Homo sapiens: one gene and its partner. The protein of the gene in region 1 purifies or fractionates together with the protein of each later gene. This does not show direct contact. Each region holds a gene or a part of one and is shown in the gene's direction. Other genes may lie near its edges. The genes, in order: CAPSL and DLGAP5.

The links.
Region 2: the proteins of CAPSL (region 1) and DLGAP5 purify together in Homo sapiens (co-immunoprecipitation; 2 studies listed by BioGRID and IntAct, with this or other methods). This does not show direct contact.

What each region holds. Positions count from the first base shown.
Region 1 is NC_000005.10:35,904,802-35,916,922, reverse strand, and holds part of CAPSL (calcyphosin-like protein), read left to right. Parts: intron 1-6,379; coding exon 6,380-6,557; intron 6,558-6,847; coding exon 6,848-7,057; intron 7,058-12,121.
Region 2 is NC_000014.9:55,172,533-55,184,653, reverse strand, and holds part of DLGAP5 (disks large-associated protein 5), read left to right. Parts: intron 1-900; coding exon 901-1,094; intron 1,095-2,221; coding exon 2,222-2,284; intron 2,285-3,356; coding exon 3,357-3,441; intron 3,442-3,875; coding exon 3,876-3,998; intron 3,999-4,954; coding exon 4,955-5,025; intron 5,026-7,317; coding exon 7,318-7,592; intron 7,593-8,635; coding exon 8,636-8,760; intron 8,761-9,181; coding exon 9,182-9,308; intron 9,309-12,121. UniProt on the Homo sapiens protein: Potential cell cycle regulator that may play a role in carcinogenesis of cancer cells. Mitotic phosphoprotein regulated by the ubiquitin-proteasome pathway.

The sequences.
Region 1 (12,121 bases):
TTCACTCTGATGGTAGTTACTTTGGCTGTGCAGAAGCTCTTTAGTTTAATTAGATGCCATTTGTCCATTTTGGCTTTTGTCGCCATTGCTTTTGGTGTTTTAGACATGAAGTCCTTGCCCATGCCTATGTCCTGAATGGTATTGCCTAGGTTTTCTTCTACGGTTTTTATGGTTTTAGGTCTAACATGTAAGTCTTTAATCCATCTTGAATTAATTTTTGTGTAAGGTGTAAGGAAGGGATCCAGTTTCAGCTTTCTACATATGGCTAAGCCAGTTTTCCCAGCACCATTTATTAAATAGGCAATCCTTTCCCCATTACTTGTTTTTGTCAGGTTTGTCAAAGATCAGATAGTTGTAGATATGTGGCATTATTTCTGAGGGCTCTGTTCTGTTCCATTGGTCTATATCTCTGTTTTGGTACCAGTACCATGCTGTTTTGGTTACTGTAGCCTTGTAGTATAGTTTGAAGTCAGGTAGCGTTATGCCTCCAGCTTTTTCTTTTGTCTTAGGATTGTCTTGGCAATGTGGGCTCTTTTTTTGGTTCCATATGAACTTTAAAGTAGTTTTTTCCAATTCTGTGAAGAAAGTCGTTGGTAGCTTGATGGGGATGGCATTGAATCTATAAATTACCTTGGGCAGTATGGCCATTTTCAAGATATTGATTCTTCCTACCCATGAGCATGGAATGTTCTTCCATTTGTTTGTATCCTCTTTTATTTCCTTGAGCAGTGGTTTGTAGTTCTCCTTGAAGAGGTCCTTCACATCCCTTGTAAGTTGGATTCCTAGGTATTTTATTCTCTTTGAAGCAATTGTGAATGGGAGTTCACTCATGATTTGCCTCTCTGTTTGTCTGTTATTTGTGTTTAAGAATGCTTGCGATTTTTGCACATTGATTTTGTATCCTGAGACTTTGCTGAAGTTGCTTATCAGCTTAAGAAGATTTTGGGCTGAGACGATGGGGTTTTCTAGATATACAATCATGTCATCTGCAAACAGGGACAATTTGACTTCCTCTTTTCCTAATTGAATACCATTTGTTTCCTGCTCCTGTCTGATTGCTCTGGCCACAACTTCCAACACTATGTTGAATAGGAGTGGTGAGAGAGGGCATCCCTGTCTTGTGCCAGTTTTCAAATGGAATGCTTCCAGTTTTTTGCCGATTCAGTGTGATACTGGCTGTGGGTTTGTCATAGATAGCTCTTATTATTTTGAGATAACGTCCCATCAATACCTAATTTGTTGAGAGTTTTTAGCATGAAGGGTTGTTGAATTTTGTCAAAGGCCTTTTCTGCATCTATTGAGATAATCATGTGGTTTTTGTCGTTGGTTCTGTTTATATGCTGGATTACATTTATTGATTTGCGTATGTTGAACCAGCCTTGCATCCCAGGGATGAAGCCCACTTGATCATGGTGGATAAGCTTCTTGATGTACTGCTGGATTTGGTTTGCCAGTATTTTATTGAGGATTTTTGCATTGATGTTCACCAGGGATATTGGTCTAAAATTCTCTTTTTTGGTTGTGTCTCTGTCCGGCTGTGGTATCAGGATGATGCTGGCCTCCTAAAATAAATTAGGGAGGATTGCCTCTTTTTCTATTGACTGGAATAGTTTCAGAAGGAATGGTACCAGTTCCTCCTTGTACCTCTGGTAGAATTTGGCTGTGAATCCTTCTGGTCCTGGACTGTTTTTGGTTGGTAAGCTATTAATTATTGCCTCAATTTCAGGGTCTGTTATTGGTCTATTCAGAGATTCAACTTCTTCCTAGTTTAGTCTTGGGAGGGTGTGTGTGTTGAGGAATTTATCCATTTCTTCTAGATTTTCTAGTTTATTTGCATAGAAGTGTTTATAGTATTCTCTGATGGTAGTTTGTATTTCTGTGGGATCGGTGGTGATATCCCCTTTATCATTTTTTATTGTGTCTATTTGATTCTTCTCTCTTTTCTTCTTTATTAGTCTTGCTAGAGTTCTATCAATTTTGTTGATCTTTTCAAATAACCAGCTCCTGGATTTAATGATTTTTTGAAGAGTTTTTTGTGTCTCTATTTCCTTGAGTTCTGCTCTGATCTTAGTTATTTCTTGCCTTCTGCTAGCTTTTGAATATGTTTGCTCTTGCTTCTCTAGTTCTTTTAATTGTGACATTAGGGTGTCAATTTTAGATCTTTCCTGCTTTCTCTTGTGGACATTTAGTGCTATAAATTTCCCTCTACACACTGCTTTGAATGTGTCCCAGAGATTCTGGTATGTTGTGTCTTTGTTCTCGTTGGTTTCAAAGAACATCTTTATTTCTGCCTTCATTTCGTTATGTACCCAGTAGTCATTCAGGAGCAGGTTGTTCAGTTTCCATGTAGTTGAGAGGTTTTGAGTGAGTTTCTTAATCCTGAGTTCTAGTTTGATTGCACTGTGGTCTGAGAGACAGTTTGTTATAATTTCTGTTCTTTTACATTTGCTGAGGAGTGTTTTACTTCCAATTATGTGGTCAATTTTGGAATAGGTGTGGTGTGGTGCTGAAAAGAATGTATATTCTGTTGATTTGGGGTGGAGAGTTCTGTAGATGTCTATTAGGTCCGCTTGGTGCAGAACTTAGTTCAATTCCTGGATATCTTTGTTAACTTTCTGTCTCGTTGATCTGTCTAATGTTGACAGTGGGGTGGTAAAGTCTCCCATTATTATTGTGTGGGAGTCTAAGTCTCTTTGTAGGTTTCTAAGGACTTGCTTTATGAATCTGCGTGCTCTTGTATTGGGTGCATATATATTTAGGATAGTTAGCTCTTCTTGTTGAATTGATCCCTTTACCATTATGTAATGGCCTTCTTTGTCTCTTTTTATCTTTGTTGTTTTAAAGTCTGTTTTATCAGAGACTAGGATTGCAACCCCTGCCTTTTTTTGTTTTCCATTTGCTTGGTAGATCTTCCTCCATCCCTTTATTGTGAGCCTGTGTGTGTCTCTGCATTTGAGATGGGTTTCCTGAATACAGCACACTGATGGGTCTTGACTGTTTATCCAATTTCCCAGTCTGTGTCTTTTAACTGGAGCATTTAGCCCATTTACATTTCAGGTTAATATTGTTATCTTTGAATTTGATCCTGTCATTATGATGTTAGCTGGTTATTTTGCTCATTAGTTTATGCCGTTTCTTCATAGCATCGATGGTCTTTACAATTAGGCATGTTTTTGCAGTGGCTGGTACCGGTTGTTCCTTTCCACATTTAGTGCTTCCTTCAGGAGCTCTTTTAGGGCAGGCCTGGTGGTGACAAAATCTCTCAGCATTTGCTTGTCTGTAAAGGATTTTTATTTCTCCTTCACTTATGAAGCTTAGTTTGGCTGGATACGAAATTCTGTGTTGAAAATTCTTTTCTTTTAGAATGTTGAATATTGGCCCCCACTCTCTTCTGGCTTGTAGAGTTTCTGCTGAGAGATCCGCTGTTAGTCTGATGGGCTTCCCTTTGTGGGTAACCTGACCTTTCTCTGTGGCTGCCCTTAACATTTTTTCCTTATTTCCACTTTGGTGAATCTGACAATTATGTGTCTTGGAGTTGCTCTTCTCGAGGACTATCTTTGTGGCATTCTCTGTATTTCCTGAATTTGAATGTTGGCCTGCCTTGCTAGATTGGGGAAGTTCTCCTGGAAAATATCCTGCTGAGTGTTTTCCAACTTGGTTCCTTTCTCCCCATCACTTTCAGGTACACCAATCAGACATAGATTTGGTCTTTTCACATAGTCCCATATTTCTTGGAGGCGTTGTTCATTTCTTTTTGTTCTTTTATCTCTAAACTTCTCTTCTCACTTCATTTCATTCATTTGATCTTCCATCACTGATACCCTTTCTTCCAGTTGATCGAATTGGCTACTGAGGCTTGTGCATTCATCACGTAGTTCTCTTGTCATGGTTTTCAGCTCCGTCAGGTCCTTTAAGGACTTCTCTGCAGTGGTTTTCTAGTTAGACGTTCATCTAATTTTTTTTTCAAGGTTTTTAACTTCTTTGCCATGGGTGCAAACTTCCTCCTTTAGCTCAAGTAGTTTGATCATCTGCAGTCTTCTTCTGTCAACTTGTTAAAGTCATCTCCATCCAGCTTTGTTCCATTGCTGGTGAGGAGCTGTGCTCCTTTGGAGGAGGAGAGGCACTCTGCTTTTTAGAGTTTCCAGTTTTTCTGCTCTGTTTTTTCCCCATCTTTGTGGTTTTATCTACCTTTGGTCTTTGATGATGGTGACATACAGATGAGGTTTTGGTGTGGATGTCCTATCTGTTTGTTAGTTTTCCTTCTAACAGTCAGGAACCTCAGCTGCAGGTCTGTTGGAGTTTGCTGGAGGTCCACTCCAGACCCTGTTTGCCTGGGTATCAGCAGTGGAGGCTGCAGAACAGCAGATATTGGTGAACAGCAAATGTTGCTGCCTGATTGTTCCTCTGGAAGTTTTGTCTCAGAGGAGTACCTGGCCGTGTGAGGTGTCAGTCTGCCCCTACTGGGGGGTGCCTCCCAGTTAGGCTACTCGGGGGTCAGGGACCCACTTGAGGAGGCAGTCTGTCCATTATCAGATCTCAAGCTGCATGCTGGGAGAACCATTACTCTCTTCAAAGTTGTCAGACAGGGACATTTAAATCTGCAGAGGTTTCTGCTGCCTTTTGTTTGGCTATGCCCTGCCCCCAGAGGTGGAGTCTACAGAGGCAGGCAGGCCTCCTTGAGCTGCAGTGAGCTCCACCCAGTTTGAGCTTCCTGGCTGCTTTGTTTACCGTCTCAAGCCTCAGCAATGGTGGGCATCCCTCCCCCAGCCTCGCTGCTGCTTTGCAGTTTGGTCTCAGACTGCTGTGCTGGCAATGAGTGAGGCCCGGTGGGTGTCGGATCCTCCGAGCCAGGTGCAGGATATAATCTCCTGGTGCGCCGTTTGCTAAGACTGTTGGAAAAGCATAGTATTAGGGTGGGACTGACCCGATTTTCCAGGTGCCGTCTGTCACCCCTTTCTTTGACTAGGAAAGGGAATTCCCTGACCCCTTGCGCTTCCTGGGTGAGGCGATGCCTTGCCCTGCTTCAGCTCATGCTTGGTGTGCTGCACCCACTGTCCGACACTCCCCAGTAAGATGAACCTGGTACCTTAGTTGGAAATGCAGAAATCACCTGTCTTCTGCATCGCTCACGCTGGGAGCTGTAGACTGGAGCTGTTCCTATTTGGCCATCTTGCTCCACCCCCTTATTTTTTAAATAGACTACTTTAAAAACCAATGCCAGCACATGATTATTAACTAAGGCCCATAATTTATTCATACTTCCGTAGTTTTTACCTAGTGTCCTTTTCTGTTTCAAGATCTCATCCAGAACTCTGCTTTACATTTACTTGTAATGTTTCCTTAGGATCCTGTTGGTTATGACAGTTTCTCAGACTTTCCTGGTTTTTGATGAATGTGAGAGGTCAAGTATTTTGTAGGATGCCCACCTATTGGAATTTCTCTGATTTTTTTCTTCATGACTAAACTGGGCTTATTATTTTTAGGGACCACAGACATAAAGCACCATTTTTATCACATTATACCAAGGATATGTATGATTAACATGATTTATTACTGTTGATGTTGACACTGATCACCTGATTGAGGTAGTATTTGTCAGACTTCTCCATTGTAAAGTTGCTTCCCTTTTCCCTTTTCCATATCGTACTTTTTGGAAGGAAACCTCTTTGTAGAGCCCACACTTAGAGAGTGGGGAGTATATGTTCCCTCCTTGAGAGGAGAATATATCCATAACTTATTTGGAATTTTTCTGCAAGAGAAATTTGTCATTTTCTTCATCTTTATTTACTCTATCATTTATTTAACCAGTATGGATGTAGGGATTTCTTTTTTATATTTTGGGTTATAATCCAGCATAGTTTTATTGGTTTAATTGTTCCAGCCTTGATCTTGAGAGCTATTTAAGTTGGCTCCTATATCCCTAACATAGCCACATCACTGTGATTTTCTGACTTCCTAAATCATTTTTTTAAAATTGATATGCATTAAGGTTTACACCTTGCTCTGTAAAGTGCTATGGGTTTTAGCAAATGCATAATGTCATGTATCCACCATCATAGTATTATAAAGGATAGTTTCTTTGACCTAAAAATCCCATGTTTCACCAATTCAACTCTTTCCTTTACCTTTCATCTTTTTACTGTCTCCACAGTTTTGTCTTTTGCAGAATGTCATGTAATTAGAATTATACTTTGTGTGTGTGTTTGTGTGTGTGTGGTGGGAAGAGGCTCTCCAGTTTTGGAAAGGAGGGTGCAGAGAAGAATTTAAGACTTTTGTATTTTAATTTGACGAAACCTTGAGTGTGGATTTTTTTTTAATCTTTACACTTACACCTGTTATTTGTACATTTCTTCTGAATTTTTGTGTGTATTTTCTTCAGAGTGTTTAGAATTATGGATGACGATAATAATCGAACCCTTGATTTTAAAGAATTTATGAAAGGGTTAAATGATTATGCTGTGGTCATGGAAAAAGAAGAGGTGGAAGAACTTTTCCGGAGGTTTGATAAAGATGGAAATGGAACAATAGACTTCAATGAATTTCTTCTCACATTAAGAGTAAGTGGCCCCATTAATCAGTGTATCTGCTGAGTTTGGCTTTCACGTGGTTTGGGTTGGCTACCTTGAGGTTTTGTTTTTACAAGTTGTTAGTACACTGTGGGGAGGGGGATAAGCAGAAAACTGTGAACAGACTTAGGAATTTTTGGAGCAATTGTAGTGTCTATTACATAATAGCACACAAATATTATTTCACATCGTTGAGGGGAATGAGATATTTTATCACATAGGATACCAAAAAAGCTCATTTGCTTATGTATGTCTCTGTATGTATTCTTCTATTTTTGTAGCCTCCAATGTCCAGAGCCAGAAAAGAGGTAATCATGCAAGCTTTTAGAAAGTTAGACAAGACTGGAGATGGTGTTATAACAATCGAAGACCTTCGTGAAGTATATAATGCAAAACACCACCCAAAGTACCAGAATGGGGAATGGAGTGAGGAACAAGTATTTAGGAAATTTCTGGATAACTTTGATTCACCCTATGACAAAGATGGATTGGTAAGTAAAAGAGCCTAATCTAGGGGAAATTTCTTCAATTCGAAATTGTAAATGGGAAATAGGTCCAAACTCTTAAAAATGTTAACACATTGATACCATATTTGTTGTAAATAGAAGTAAACTATTTCCCTAGGAACAATCTAGAAACTTCTCCATTGCCAGGGGAAACCTTCATGTTACTTTAGTTGAAACCTAATGTATGTTTGTGCACGCACACACTCATAGACATATATTGAAATATATTGGTAGGGGATCCACATAAGTGATGACCTGTCATCTGGGGAATGTGATGTTCTGATTAAACATGCCATTTTATGGTTACTATATTTACCATACTCAGCTAGTTGCACTCCAGTGAACTGATTATAATAAAATATATTTAACTTTGAAATGAGATCATAATTTAATTTTGGAGAACAGATTTACAAGGCCTTTCAGGATGTTTTAGTGCCTTCACACTCATCCTCATTCATCTTCACACTTTGCTATGTGGAAATGCCATTTAAAGGTAGTTTTTGGTAAAGGGAATGTCAAATAACAGAATTTACTCTGATTTATTCTTTAGTGTGCTTTGAGATTAACTTACATTTCTAAACTGCACTGAATTTGAAAACAAAATCAACCGCCCATCTCCATTAACTTTTATCTTCAAGTTACAAATGCATAGCTTGGTAGGGTAAGGAATTATATAGCTCCATGACTGTGTCTAGGCTGAGATGAAAATGTCATCTGTCCTTTATCAACAGCCCTAAATTGACTTTTTAGAAAAAAAAAAAAAACCCTGAGCCAGTTCTGTTCTTAGATGATCTAAGGGTTTTGGTGATAAGGAAAGGGGATTGTCCCTTGAGTAACAGTCAGCAGCAGCACAGCCCCAGGGTTCATTGTCTCTTAAGCCCTTTACAGCACAGGAAAAGATAAGTGGCCCAGTGGACAAGAAGAGAGTGGTTAAGGGAAGAAGAAATAAACCTTCCTCTTCTGAAGGGAATGTGCTCCAACTTTTTAAATGAAACTTCATGATGAGTCTCATTAGCAAGGGGTGGGGGATAGGAAGGTGACCTTTCTGTTCTTCCTGCTGACATTTCCCTTTCAGGGATGGAGACATACCCTCTATTTCAGGCTGAGGATTGTGGAGGCAGGTTTACAAAAGGGCCAAAATTCAATAGGGCAGCCAAAATCTTAGGGACAGAAATAAAAACTACATGTTTTCTTCCAGTATTGCTGGCCTTGATCACTGAGATGTCAGTGGAAAAATAGCCAACTGCCATTTCCCCAAATTAGCCCACCCCTTTGTGGATCCTAGAGTGTGTCTGCTTCCTCTCTGCAGGTGGTTCCTCCTCATTGCCAGGGGAAACCTCAGCTACCCTTTTCTCTAACAAAAGTCAAAATAGCCAGTTGTGATTCGGCTGATTCAAGTCTGCACATCACCCCTTTTGATATTTATCTTAAGAAGCCACATTAAGCTCTCAAAAGCTCATAAAGGTTATTGAGGTTTTTAGCAGTTATAGCACTTGATGTCATCTGCATGTTACAGACCCTGTATTGATACCCAACTCTGGCTGTTCATAATCATCATCAGGGAGGATTTATTAGTAATGTAGATTCCTAGCTGCACTGCAGAACCACAGAATCTGATTTTTTGGAGGATGGAGTCCAAGGCTTTACATTTTAATGTGTACCAGATGACTCTTACACTCACGTGTATTTGTGATCCTTAGCTCTAAAAGATTCAGAAATAACTGTTTTAAAATTACTAAATATAATATACACATGACCCCATTTAGCATAATAATGAATCTGGGCAACACTTTTTGAGCACATATCAACTGGGCATTTGCTAAGGGCTTACCAGGGATATCTCATTTAATAGACATAATAAAAGTGTTTCTGAAAAGTGATGTGTAATTCAAACTTTCGCACACTGAATTGTATTTTAAATGCACAAGAAATTGTTGTTGTAGAGGAACTCCATGGTAAATTCTTTTATGAGAAGAATAATTAGCTTCTAAAATTTACCTCTTGCAAATTGCACTATTTTGCATATTAAGATTGCTTGTGGTGAAGCATAGCTGTACTTGAAGCCAGTGTGCTCATTTATGGTTAAAAACATCCCATATAAGACAAAATTTAAAATAATGCAAAAAATTTAGCATAGCTCCTAGCTAAAGGTAATGTTCAAACTTGATAATCTAGGTTAAACTCTCAAATACCCATAAAGGTTGCTGGAGTTTCAGCAGTCACGGAATTTGATGTCATAAATCTTGCACTAATACCTCACTGGACTCCCATAGCAGCCGGAAGCCATTTGGATGGAGGTGTGAAGCAATCAGATAACCTGTGACACAGACTTTCCTTACCCCTTTTCTATCACTAAACCCCACCACAATTTGGTGAGACATTTACTTCTTATTCTTTAATATCTAAGTTTTGAATTCTTCATGTGTATATATGACTTTATCATCACTATATTTTTAAAAAGCCTCTTAGGACTTTAGACCTTCAGGGAATATCAGTCTATTGCCTCATCCATCTCATAAAAAATTTTTAAATAATTAAAAATATGTTAGGTATATTACTGAGTGTATGTATTAATAGTAACCTAGATTTGTTTTAGGATTTTTCTGATGAATTTGGAGCTGAGAAAAAGGGCTTGTATTGTGACTTCCATTACCCCCATCTGGGACCTTTCCTTGTATATATGATATATATCTTGTCACATAAAGGTAGCCTAGTCAAGAGGCCTGCTAAAAGTAGGAGTGCCCAGTCTCTCATTTTTTTCTAATGTCAAATAAAATGAATAAGGATAGTGATTATTGCTAACCAACAATTTACTATGATGAGGGCAAATTTACAGGAGATCAGAGAATTTGCGATTCAGGCCATTCCCAATATAAGTTGAGTCTCAGAAAACAAGCAAACACCTAGCTAAGAGTAACTGATGGCTTTTTCTGAAATGATCAAATACATTAGCTCTGACCTCTGGCTTGACGTCATCTGACTTCCAAGTGAGGTTTAATGCTTCCTTTATCTTTTGCCCATCTTGGATTCCTTCTCCATTCTCCAACAGAGCCAACTCAACTCAGGTCACCCCATCCCACTGGGGGAGTTTGGGATGGAAGGATGGGTGACGATACCAGTCTCAATCATGTATTGGTGTTTCAGTTAGGGTTTGCTTTCAATTGCAAGAAATAGGAAATCTTATTATACACTGGAATACACAAATTAGGTTTTATTTTTTATTCTACTTGATGTTCTCACTTGAGTGGCTTAAAGAGAGCAGAGCTGAAGTCTTTGTGATTTTCCTGGCCTTTCCTTCATGATCTCAAGATGGTTGCCTAACTTCAGCCAGCACATCTGAGTTTCAGGCAGCAGGACAAAGGAGGGAGAAGGAGGGAACGAGAAAGGGCTGGAGCCTGCATCAGGAAAGCAAAGGCTTCCCTAGAAATTCATGTCAAATTTCCTTTGTATCTTATTGGTGAGAACTCTATTACTTGGCCATCCCAAGCTGAAGCTGCAGAGGAGTCTGGGAAAGTGAGTTTTGAGTTTTTCAACTTCTGTGGGAGAGAAAAGCTAGGGATAGGATTATTACAGTGGATGTGGAGGGAGTCTCATTCAATGGCTGTCATCCCTGGCCAACAAACAGACAATAGAAACAATAACAAACTAAAAATATCGGGAGTTTGATAATTTTTAATTAAAAAATAATTAGCTGTAAAAAATGTTCCTCAAACTGTCATGGTAAAGTGCACCGTCAAAATGGCTCAGGGTCTCGTGGGTAACTCTTTTAGTTTACTTGCTATTTGCTGTAAAATGATCCACTTACTTTGTTGGAGTATTTCACCAGCCTGCAACTTTTTGAGGACTGAGACTTTATCTTAATTATCTTTGATATTCCCAGTTAAATTACTGTAGTGTGCACAACAATTAACTGGGATGTTTAGATTTTTAAGAAGTAAATTCCACAACCACCTGCTTCAGAGATTCTGATTTAGCAGGTGTGGGGTACAGCCTGTGGGCCTAGGCTTATGACAGACACCCCAGGTTGTCCTGATGCAGGTGGTGTGGACCCACACTGATAAACATTTCCCTGGAACCTCACACAACATGAGAAAGATAGAAAGAGGGCAATAATGATGTGTGAAACTTAATGTAATCCCTTAATGAGGGAATTGAAAAGCAGAGGCTGAGGAATCCAAAGGAGGAGAGGAATAAAGAAGTTCAACAAAGGGGGATGCTAATGGTATCCTAATTTTGACAGAGGCTCTATGCATGTATTGTAGATGTGTATTTACAGTTCAACTATGAGCTGAGTTCAAATGCCTTTCTTTCTACTGCCCTTCCTTATGTTTTTAGTGGGAAGGGGTGGTATGAAAGACAACTGTGGATCCAGTGACTTTTCTTTTCTGGTCACTTATAATTTCAATAGGACCAGTGGGTCAGTCATCTCTTATGATTCTTGGAAGGCATAGGTATGTCCCCAACCGATCATGTCAACCAACATGATTAAATTAGAGTGTACATATTATCTAGACCTGTTAAAAATAAGACTAATAACTGTCTTTTCTCCTTCCCCAAAGGAAAGTAATATAAAATCCCCACACAGATAAACACATTAGTCAATATTTCAAAGAGATGGTCATGGGTGTAGAGTGGAGAGAAGCCAGGATGGGTGGGAGGCATGAAGCAGGGGTAAGCTTTTTATTCACCCTGGGCCTTGAATGAGTTATTTATGTGTTAGAAAAGCATGCAACCCGGGAGCGTTTAACTAGAAATCTGTTTCTTCACCCACAGGAGAGAACTCCATTTTTGGAAAGGGAAAACATCACTTACCCTGACACAAGGACATGACATGTTGTTTCTGACGTGTCACAGAAAGACAGAAATAACTACAGTTGCAGAGCACTTCCTTCTTACTCTGAGTTTCAGTCTCCCTTACCTGAACCGACGGGCTCCCACCCTTAGACAAAAGATGACAACCTATGCGTCACTTTCCATTTAGGTTGGCTTAGAAACTTTCAAGACTTTCTTTCTCTCTTCCTAGGTGCTGTTCTCACACCATCCTCAGCT
Region 2 (12,121 bases), on another chromosome or scaffold:
CCCAGAGCAAGCGACGCTTCAAGAGAGAGCAAGGCAAACACTACCCTAGTTTTAGAAGTCATATTCCATTATTCCTGTAATACTCTCTTGGTCACACAAGTCAGCCCTATTCAGTGTGAGGGGATGACACAGGGCAAGACTACCAGGAAGTGAGGATCAGTAGAGGGCAGCTTGGATGCTGGCTATCATACAAGTTAATTAATTTAAAAGTGAAGTAATAAATGCCTATTACATAGCAAGCAGTTAATATTTGAACACATGAAGGCAAAATGAATACAAATTTTAAAAGACTAGGGGTTGAAATAACTTGTGGTTAGAGTGCTAAAGAATTAACAAGAAATATTAAAAGCATTTCCCTTTGTGCGGAGAGGTCTTGCTTTGTTACTCAAGCTGAACTTGAACTCCTGGGCTCAAATGATCCTTCCACCTCAGCCTTCCCAGTAGATGGGACTACAGGTGTGTTACTGTGCCTGGCTTATTGAAAGCCTTTTTTTTTTTCTTGAGACGGAGTCTTGCTCTGTTGCTTAGGCTGGAGTGCAGGGGCGCAATCTTGGCTCACTGCAACCTCCATCTCCTGGGTTCAAGCAATTCTCCTACCTCAACCTCCCGAATAGCTGGGATTACAGGTGACCGCCACCACACCCAGCTAATTTTTGAATTTTTAGTAGAGATGGGATTTCACCACGTTGGCCAGGCTGGTCTCAAACTCCTGACCTCAGATGATCCGCCCTCCTCAGCCTCCCAAAGTGCTGGGATTACAGGCGTGAGCCACCGTGCCTGGCCTGAAAGCATTTTTTAGCAGCAGTTGAAATGACACAAAAATAATTGTTTATACATTTGCATAACTTTTCATCTGAAATGTTTTATATACTGTGTGGTTTTGGTTTTTTTTCTGCCTAGGGGCAATGAAAACTATTCTAGGTGATCAACGAAAACAGATGCTCCAAAAATACAAAGAAGAAAAGCAACTTCAAAAATTGAAAGAGCAGAGAGAGAAAGCTAAACGAGGAATATTTAAAGTGGGTCGTTATAGACCTGATATGCCTTGTTTTCTTTTATCAAACCAGAATGCTGTGAAAGCTGAGCCAAAAAAGGTAAATTTAGTGTCTTAATATAAAGGAATAGTTTCTTTTATTTGGTATTTTCTTCAAGACATTAAGTGACTAACCCCTTTCCCTTAGTCTCATTATTAACTGGTTGGTAGAAGGTGGGAATGACATAATAGTAGCTCAGAAGAATGAAAATCAGGTCTCTTAAGATAGCTGTAGGTAAGTTGAGATAGGATAAAACTAGGAAAATTGGTAGAATCAGGCTGAACAATGTTATGCAAAGGATTTGGTGTTTATCCTGTAGGTTTTGCAGAATCAGGAGAAGTTTATAAATAAGGGTAGTGCCGTTGTCAAATTAATAATTCAGGAAAATACCATAGCCCTAAAGATTTTAGTCTGGAAAGGGAAGCATTTATAGATAGGGAGACCAATTGTGAGACTATTGTAATAGAATAGATGGAAAGGGGCAGTGGGTTTTAAAAGGAAAAAATAGGTGTAAGACATCTAAATAAAGGCATTTGACAGGACTGGTGGCCAAGTAGATGGTGAGGGGTAAAGGAAATTGAAAAAGCAGAGAGAAGCTCTGCTGCTAAAAGAGATAAGGAAGATAAGGAACAAGCTTAAGTGGGTGCATGTTAATAACCTTTTTAAAAATCTTAAACTTGTGTGGGCCACCTAGATATTAGTAAAAATTTGGAAAGAAGGATGGAAATTGGTGCTAAGATGTCGATTTAGGATATAATATTGGGAATATGGATGAGTGTTTAAGCTGTAGGACTAAATGAGACCATTCCAATAAGGATATATAAAATTATGAAAAAGTGGGCTCTAGAGAGCACTTTTAGGTAGGCAGAAGCCAGGTACCAGGCTGAGGACTGGTCAGAGAGGCAGGAGAACTAAGAGAGGATAGAAGCTCATATTAATGATGATTCCAATACCTGGAAAATACGGTTTGAAATTTCTTTCTCACTGAGAAATGTGAGTAATTTTTGAAGTTACTAACTTAATTTAAATCAAGCTAGAACCAGAAAAAGGAATTTAAGTATCTTTTTGCTATAAGAGATTAAGGATAAAATTTAACTTTAAAATGGGAACTTTATTTTGTAATAAGATATGGAAGTAAACCTTTACCAGTTCATATTTTAAGTTCATCTTCTTTTGACTGTTCTAAGGCTATTCCATCTTCTGTACGGATTACAAGGTCAAAGGCCAAAGACCAAATGGAGCAGACTAAGGTATAGTTGATAGTAGATAATTGTTACTAAAATGATAAATTGCACTTTTTTAGTAAGTAAATTCATTTTAAATCTAGTATCAGATTCAAACATAATGATTAATTTACTAGAGTTAACAGGTACCAAAGTCACTGTTTTTAGTATGGTGATGTAGAGCAATTTCACTTAAAATATTTGCTCCAACATTCCGTATGAGATCCATGGCAAACTGTCTTTGTGTCACACTCTTGTTTTGTTTAGTGGGCTCCTATTATGCATTCCAAGTTACCTGCATGAAATGCATATGGGGAGGAAAGCACACAGGGTAGGTGTTATAAACTTACGGGTCTTCAAAATACTGTAATAGAGATATCAGGAGGGTTACTAAAACAAAGTGAAGTGGGCAAGAAGGGAAATAATATGCCTCTTTATCAGGTGAGGAAGCTAAGTTCCACGTATGCATATATATTTTGCATTGCTATGATGTTCCTGGTGTTGTAGGCTTTTGGATATAATAAACTAAATTCTCTTTGTGGAACTTACATGTAAGGCATTTAAAAAAATACATAATATGCCAGAAGATGATAAGTATTATGGAAGAGATTTTAAAAAGGGGAGATGGGGTGTACTAGAAATAGGTATGGGGTAGAATTTTGATTGGGCAGTTAAGGAAGGCCTCCCTGAGATGAAAGCCTTTTGAGTGAAGTCATTATGGAAGTGGAGAAGAGAACCATGGGAAAGCGCTTTTTATCCAGGAGAAGTATTTTCTAGGCAAAATTAAAAGGTCTTGAAGTGAAAGTATGTCTAGGAGTGTTTAAGGACCTTCAGAAGGCAAGTTATAGTGAGCTGTTTTTAATAGCTTGGGTTATTAGCATTTTCCAAATTCTGTGATTGTGAAAAAGGATGTAAGCTTTTTTGGAAGCTTAATGGAAAGCTTTTCTTTATCTCATTTTATTTGGGGTAGTTTTTTGTTGTTGTTGTTGGGTCATTTACGATGATCAGATTTCATATGAGGAATCAATTTACAGATTAAAAATATGATGGTCTGATTCATTATGCAATTAAATCACATAGCACCTAATCTCTTAAATAGATTGATAACGAGAGTGATGTTCGAGCAATCCGACCTGGTCCAAGACAAACTTCTGAAAAGAAAGTGTCAGACAAAGAGAAAAAAGGTAGGAATATTAGCAATTACTATAAATCCTCTGAGGCTACCACAGCCATAATTTTTTTTAAGTGTCTTGAAGGTCAACTGGAATTTGTTCGTTTGTTTGTGACAGAGTCTTGCTCTGTTGCCCAGGTTGGAGTGCAGTGGCACAATCATAGCTCACTGGAGCCTCCACCTCCTGGGCTCAAGTGATCCTCCCACCTCAGCCTCCTGAGTAGCTGCAACTACAGACTTGCCACCATGCCCAGCTGATTTTTATATTTTTTGTAGAGACGGGGTCTCACTATGTTGCCTAGGCTGGTTTCGAACTCCTGGGCTGAAGTAATCCTCCTGCCTCCCAAGTAGCTGGGACTACAGGCATTGCACTACCATGCCTGGCTTCACAGCAATAATTTCATAACTACAAGGGACATTTGATGTAGTTATTTTTTTTTCCCACAGTTGTGCAGCCTGTAATGCCCACGTCGTTGAGAATGACTCGATCAGCTACTCAAGCAGCAAAGCAGGTTCCCAGAACAGTCTCATCTACCACAGCAAGAAAGCCAGTCACAAGAGCTGCTAATGGTGAGAACTATTCCTTGATCAGTGACTGAACTAGAATGTTTGGTCCTTGAGGTTTTTGTGTTCCGTTTCAAAAATCAACAAGTACTTCTTTGAGTAGGAGAGAAGGAAACAGGAAATTCTAATACCTGAAAATAGATTCTGTGCCCTGACATCTGGTTAGCACACAATGGGTGCCCAATCATTGAAGACCTTAATTAGTATAAGCAGTGTTTCAAAGTGAAAAATTAATGGTCCGAGTAAATCACAGTTCATTTATTTGGTGCAATACAACGTAGCCATTAAGAATAATATTATTAAAGAACACTTAATGACATGGTTCATGATATATTAAGTGGGCAAAGAAAAGCAGGTCAAACTCTGAACAGTAGGATCGCAGTTCTAAAAAGCATTATGGGAATATGTGGACATAGGACTGGAAAACCATACCCTGAAGTGACAGCTGAGTAATGGAATCCTGGGTGATTTGTCATTATTGTTCTTTGTAGTTTTCTGTTATTTTTCTAATTGTCTGTAATAAATATGTACAGGCTGAGCAACCCTAATCAAAACATCCAAAATTCTGAGCATTGACATGAAGTTCAAAGGTCATCCTCAAAGGAAATGCTCTTGGAGCATTTCAGATTTTAGATATTTGTATCAAGTATGCTGAACCTGTAAGTATAATGTAAATATTCCAAAATCTGGAATCTAAAATATCTCTGGTCCCAAGCATTTTGGATAAGGGATACTCAATCTGTATTTGGTATTCAGATGAAAAGGGTAAAACACTCTGGTTTTGAAAAGAGATGGTTTGTATTTGGCAGGAAATTCCATAACCCTTTTTATAATATGGCTTTTAATAAAAAAATCCTTCAAGACATATATTCCTACTGTTGCTTCTTTTCCTTTCCCAAGTTACCTAGTATTTTCATGTAGCATTTCTATCTAGTAAAATAAATATTTTATTGTTGTTTTAGAAAACGAACCAGAAGGAAAGGTGCCAAGTAAAGGAAGACCTGCCAAAAATGTAGAAACAAAACCCGACAAGGTAGAGAATAAACATCTTTTTAATTCTAGATGCTTTGAAAATCTCATTGCTACTTTCATAAAGTTGAAATTAAACATAAAGAACTGCTTCAAAAGGTTAACCTACATGTGTGTTAAAACTTCCTGAACCATAAGAAAGCATCAAGAGGATTTACTCTTGTTATTTTTCAGGTATCTTATTTTCAGAGCTTTATAGGTAGAGAAAGCATAATTTTGTTAGAAGATGGAGAAAAATAATAAAAACACAGCTGAGAGAAACCTGTATGTGGGAATTAGCCAAGACATAGGGTGAAGTGGGGTGAAATGCATTGACTTTGGATTCATTTAGGCCTGGGTTTGAATACTCTCTCTGCTTCCAATTAGTTGCATAACCCTGGGCAAGTTATGTAGTTTATGAGCTTCTTTTCTTATTCCTAACATGGAATACCTGCATAGAGTAGTTGTAAGAATTAAATAAACTAAAATTTCTGCCTGCATCTAGCATGGTTTCTAATAAGGTCTTCAAAAAAGATGCCCCATTTGAGGACCCAACCCCTTGGCCTATAATCTATGATATAGTTTATTTTCTTTTATTTTATTTTTTGAGACAGAGTCTCACTCTGTCGCCCAGGCTCGAGTGCAATGGCGCGATCTTGGCTCACTGCACCTTCCGCTCCCCGGGTTCAAGTGATTCTCCTGCCTCAGCCTCCCGAGTAGTTGGGATTACAGACGTGCACCACCACGCCCATCTGATTTTTGTATTTTTAGTAGAGACGAGGTTTCACCATGTTGGCCAGGCTGGTCTTGAACTCCCGACCTCAGGTGATCCACCTACTTCGGCCTCCCAAAGTGCTGGGATTACAGGCGTGAGCCACCACGCCTGGCCAGTATAATTTCTTAATTTAAAAAAAGTACCAAAGATTAAGTAACCTGGCTAGATTCTTAGTAAAAAATCAAACACAGATCAAGAAAGGAAACACACAGTGAATCTTCACAGATAAAGCAGCTGGACCTTATAGGTCCCCCCTTAAGATTAACCCTTAAGGATTATCACTAGTTTTTGCTTTGACTGCCATGCTGGCTTCAACAGTGTTACCACTTAAACTCTTGTCCAGGTTGAAATACCTGGGTTTGAGTTCATATCTTATTAAAAATCAGAAACCTGGAAACCTCTAGAAATTATTTAAATACCAAGTAACAAATTGACTTGAAATAGTAAATATGCTTTGTATTTTATATGGTTAATCTTTTGTGTCACATTGAAAGTATTGCTCTTGTGTTAAGGTTATTTATAATCTAAGGTTATTTAACTTAAGAATTTGGTCCTTAATGATAGTCATTCCATAATGTTAGATTTCTGATTTTAAACCATTGTAATTATCAACATAATTTTTTTTTTGAGACAGAGTCTCGCTCTGTCGCCCAGGCTGAAGTGCAGTGACACGATCTCGGCTCACTGCAAGCTCCACCTCCCGGTTTCTCACCATTCTCCTGCCTCAGCCTCCCAAGTAGCTGGGACTATAGGCGCCTGCCACCACGCCCCAATAATTTTTTGTATTTTTAGCAAAGACGGGGTTTTGCTGTGTTAGCCAGGATGGTCTCGATCTCCCGACCTTGTGATCCGCCCGCCTCAGCCTCCCAAAGTGCTGGGATTACAGGCATGAGCCACCGTGCCTGGCCGTAATTATCAACATAATTTAAGTAAAAAGATACGTATTTGTTGAATAAGTTTTTCCATATTAATTTTCCATTATCTTTTAATTTGTTGTAATACCCAAAAGGTATTAGTTAGTCTTTAAATAAGAATTGGTTCGGGGTGGGTGCGGTGGCTCCCGCCTGTAATCCCAGCACTTTGGGAGGCCTAGGCGGGCGGATGACGAGGTCAGGAGATTGAGACCATCCTGGCTAACACAGCGAAACCCCGTCTCCACTAAAAATACAAAAAATTAGCCGGGCGTGGTGGCGGGCGTCTGTAGTCCCAGCTACTTGGGAGGCTGAGGCAGGAGAATGGCGTGAACCCGGGAGGCGGAGCTTGCAGGGAGCCGAGATCGCGCGACTGCACTCCAGCCTGGGCGACGGAGGGCTACTCCGTATCAAAAAAAAAAAAAAGATTCTATTCCCGGGTAATAGCAATGGATTTAGCGTAACTGGTCTTCTGATTCCATGTATACACTTAATTGTATCTGTTTTTGTCTCTCAAATTATGTACATAGAACATATATTTCTGTTGTCATATTTTCAGACCTATAAAAATTGGTTGAATATATCCTCAGAAGAGAGAAATCTTACTCTACTTTGTTAACTCACATCCTAGGGTATTTCTTGTAAAGTCGATAGTGAAGAAAATACTTTGAATTCACAAACTAATGCAACAAGTGGAATGAATCCAGATGGAGTCTTATCAAAAATGGAAAACTTACCTGAGATAAATACTGCAAAAATAAAAGGGAAGAATTCCTTTGCACCTAAGGATTTTATGTTTCAGCCACTGGATGGTCTGAAGACCTATCAAGTAACACCTATGACTCCCAGAAGTGCCAATGCTTTTTTGACACCCAGTTACACCTGGACTCCTTTAAAAACAGAAGTGTAAGAATATGATCTTAATAATAAGTCTCTTGCTAAGATGGGTAATAAATGCCTTTCTTTTTTTTTTTTTTTTTTTTTTTTTTTTCAGACGGAGTTCGCTCTGTCGCCCAGGCTGGAGTGCAGTGGCGTGATCTCCCCTCACTGTAAGCTCCGCCACCCGGGTTCACGCCATTCTTCTGCCTCAGCCTCTCAAGTAGCTGGGACTACAGGCGCCCGTCACCACGCCCGGCTAATTTTTTGTATCTTTAGTAGAGACGGGGTTTCACCATGTTAGCCAGGATGGTCTCGATCTCCTGACCTCGTGATCCGCCCGCCTCGGCCTCCCAAAGTGCTGGGATTACAGGCGTGAGCCACCGCGCCCGGCCAAATGTCTTTCTTATATTTGGTCTATGCTCTTAAAAAGTTATTATTAGTGAACTGTGTTAATTAGGAATCATGCAATTTTTTTCTTTAAAAAAAATTCTTCAGAAGGTACAATAATGTAATTGACAGTTTTTATATTTCCTATGCATTGTTATTTTCACTATACAATTTGGGTTTTTTGTTTTTAATAAATGACTTAATTATAACACATACATTTTTCAAAAGAAGAAAATTGCTATACTGCTTTAGCTCAGATACGACTTTTTCCTCATTTTCTTCTGGCTTAGTATTTAGAAAAACTGGCCCTGAAGACAAAAATGATTAATTTGCAAAACAAGGGAAAAATCAGTTGGAACCTTTAAAAGAAAAGGCAAGATCATTTTGCAAAGACTGGCTGGCAGCAAATATACTAAAAACTGCTCAGCAGCATCTAAGACTGTTAAGTGTTTATGTTCCATTAAGAAATCTTCAAAATCTTTGAATCTGATTACAATTAATTAGTAAAAATGGACATTCACACTATAGGTGTTTACATTTTCTCCCCTCCAGAATACACATTTTAAAAAAATAGAAACATTTCTATTTTAGCCCAGATCTACAAGTGACACAATTTTGAAACCCTTTATATTAGATATATGGAGTTCATGTTTCATGAAGTATATTTTTGCTATTGTTTTTAGTGATGAGTCTCAAGCAACAAAAGAAATTTTGGCACAAAAATGTAAAACTTACTCTACCAAGACAATACAGCAAGATTCAAATAAATTGCCATGTCCTTTGGGTCCTCTAACTGTTTGGCATGAAGGTATAGTATTTAATTAATTTATTCATTTTTTAGAATAATGTTAATACAAAAAATATTTTGCTTTCAGGTATAGTAATTACATTTTTACTTTTCTGGATTATTACTTGTCAGATTTGTTTGGAGCTCTTTTTCACCATATCATTTGGGGATGTGAACTCAGGGTCAGAAAAGACGGGAAAGCATGGGTAAAGATATCTGAAGAGAATATTGGAATGAAGAATACAGACAGAAGAGGGGAAATAAATGTAAATTTAAAGAAAAAATATTGAGAGCTACTTTAGAGGAAATGTGAAGTGATTGAGGCAGAAATAAAATTTTAAAATTAAACATTGAAAAGGATTTTTAAAATGTCTTTTTAGGGGCTGTCATTTTAGGAATTGTTGCTTTGAAATTTATATGTAAGATTTTCTTTAATTTATAGAACATGTTTTAAATAAAAATGAAGCTACTACTAAAAATTTAAATGGCCTTCCAATAAAAGAAGTCCCATCACTTGAAAGAAATGAAGGTCGAATTGCTCAGCCCCACCATGGTGTGCCATATTTCAGGTATGTCTGTGTGTTTCTAGTGTAAGAATTTTGTATTAATATCTAGACATTTAAAACCAAAACTAAAAATTTTTAACCTTAATATAGTGGGGGAAAACTGGTGTTAGGTGATTTTCACGTTTAAATTTTAATTATTTTTTTGATAACTAGTACATTCATGTGGTTCCTAATTCAAAGGGTAGGAAAAGGTACAAGTGAGAAGACTTCTTCTCAGCACTGTGACCCAACCACATAGTTTGAACCTTTCATGAAGGCAAGTGTTACTCATTTCTTGTGAATACTTCCATGGATAGTTCATGCATATGTAGACAAATATAACATGTACATTTTTTTCTTTTTTAAAAAATATGGACAATAGGCTGGGCGCGGTGGCTCACGCCTGTAATCCCAGCACTTTGGGAGGCCGAGGTGGGTGGATCACAAGGTCAAGAAATCGAGACCATCCTGTCTAACATGGTGAAACCCCATCTCTACTAAAACTGTAAAAATTATCCGGGCGTGGTGGTGCACGCCTGTAGTCCCAGCTACTCATGAGGCTAAGGCAGGAGAATTGCTTGAACCTGGGAGGCGGAGGTTGCAGTTAGCCAAGATTGCACCACTGCACTCCAGCCTGGCAACAGAGTGAGACTCCATCTCAAAATATATATATATCTATATACATATATATATCGGGGAATCTGCCCTGATATTCACGTAGGTTCTTTTCTGTTTTCCTTAAGCATTGGCCAGCTTGAGAAGTAAAGGGACAGAGTACAAAAAGAAATTTTAAAGCTGGGCATCCGGGGGAGACATCACATGTCGGTAGGTTCCGTGATGCCCCACAAGCTGCAAAAACCAGCAAGTTTTTATTAGGGATTTTCAAAAGGGGAGGGAGTGTGCGAATAGGTGTGGGTCACAGACATCAAGTACTTTACAAGGTAATAGAATATCACAAGGCAAGTGGAGGCAGGGTGAGATCACGGGACCAGGGCGAAATTAAAATTGCTAAATGAAGTTTCGGGCACCATTGTCATTGATAACATCTTATCAGGAGACAGGGTTTTGAGATCAACCAGTCTGACCAAAATTTATTAGGCGGGAATTTCCTCTTCCTAATAAGCCTGGGAGCGCTATGGGAGACTGGGGTCTATTTCACCCCTGCAGTTTCGACAGTAAGAGACGGCCACGCCCAGGGGGCCAGTTAAGAGACCCACCCCCAGGTGCGCATTCTCTTTCTCAGGGATGTTCCTTGCTGAGAAAAAGAATTCAGTGATATTTCTCCCATTTGCTTTTGAAAGAAGAGAAATATGGCTCTGTTCCGCCCGGCTCACCGGCGGCCAGAGTTTAAGGTTATCTCTCTTATTCCCTGAACAATCGCTGTTATCCTGTTTTTTCAAGGTGCCCACATTTCATATTGCTCAAACACACATGCTGTACAATTTGTGCAGTTAATACAGTTATTACAGGGTCCTGAGGTGACATACATCCTCCTCAGCTGACAGGATTAAGAGATTAAAGTAAGTAAAGACAGGCATAGGAAATCACAAGGGTATTGACTGGGGAAGTGATAAGTGTCCATGAAATCTTTACAATTTATATTTAGAGATTGCAGTAAAGACAGGCATAAGATATTACAAAAGTATTAATTTGGGGAACTAATAAATGTCCATGAAATCTTCATAATCCACGTTCTTCTGCCATGGCTTCAGCCAGTCCCTCCGTTTGGGGTCCCTGACTTCCTGCAACATGTATATATATATATAGAGAGAGAGAGAGAGACAACATATATCTATAGAGAGAGACAATATCATACAATACACACTATTCTGTTTGCAAATCAAATAGATGAGAAGTAAGTATCTCATTATAGTTTTACTATTCATTTGTTCTATTATAAATATACTTTTTGAGAGTGACTTCATTTCTTTCTTTTCTTTTGTTTTGAAATGGTTGCACTCTGTTGCCCAGGCTGGAGTACAGTGATGTGATCTCAGCTCACCGCAGCCTCTCTGTCCTGAGCTCAAGCCATCCTCCTGCCAGTGGGTGGCTAATTTTGGTGTGTGTGTGTTTTTTTTTTTGTTTTTTTTTTTTTTTGTAGAGACGGGGGTCTTATGATATTGCCCAAGCTGGTCTCGAACTCACAGGCTCAAGCGATCCTTTTGCCTCAGCCTCCCATACTGTTAGGATTACAGGCATGAGCCACTATGTCCAGCTTAATTTCTTTTTTAGAGCACTGGGTTTTAGAATTATAAGGGATTTTAGAGGTAGCTAATCCATTGTGTCATTCCACTGAGTTATTGAAATATTAAGCAATCTACCTAACTAGATAATGTCAGAACTAAACCATTTCTGCTATCTCTTCTTTTTTTTTTTTTTTTTTTTTTTGAGACGGAGTCTCGCTCTGTTGCCCAGGCCGGAGTGCAATGGCGCGATCTTGGCTCTTTGCAACCTCTGCCTCCCAGGTTCAAGCAATTCTCAGGCCTCAGCCTCCTGAGTAGCCAGGATTACAGGCGTGTGCCACCACACCCAGCTAATGTTTATATTTTTAGTAGAGACGGGGTTTCACCATGTTGGTCAAGCTGGTCTCGAACTCCTGACCTTGTGATCCGCTTGCCTCAGCCTCCCAAAGTGCTGGTATTACAGGCGAGAGCCACCGTGCCCGACCCTCTGCCTCCTTATTAATCGTCATGTTGTGTCATTGAATATGAACAACTCAAATTTTTTGTTTTTGTTTCTGTTTTTTGAGACAGGGTCTCACTCTGTCACCCAGGCTGGAGTGCAGTGTCTCGCTCTTGGCTCACTGCAGCCTTGACTTCCCGACCTCCCACCTCAGC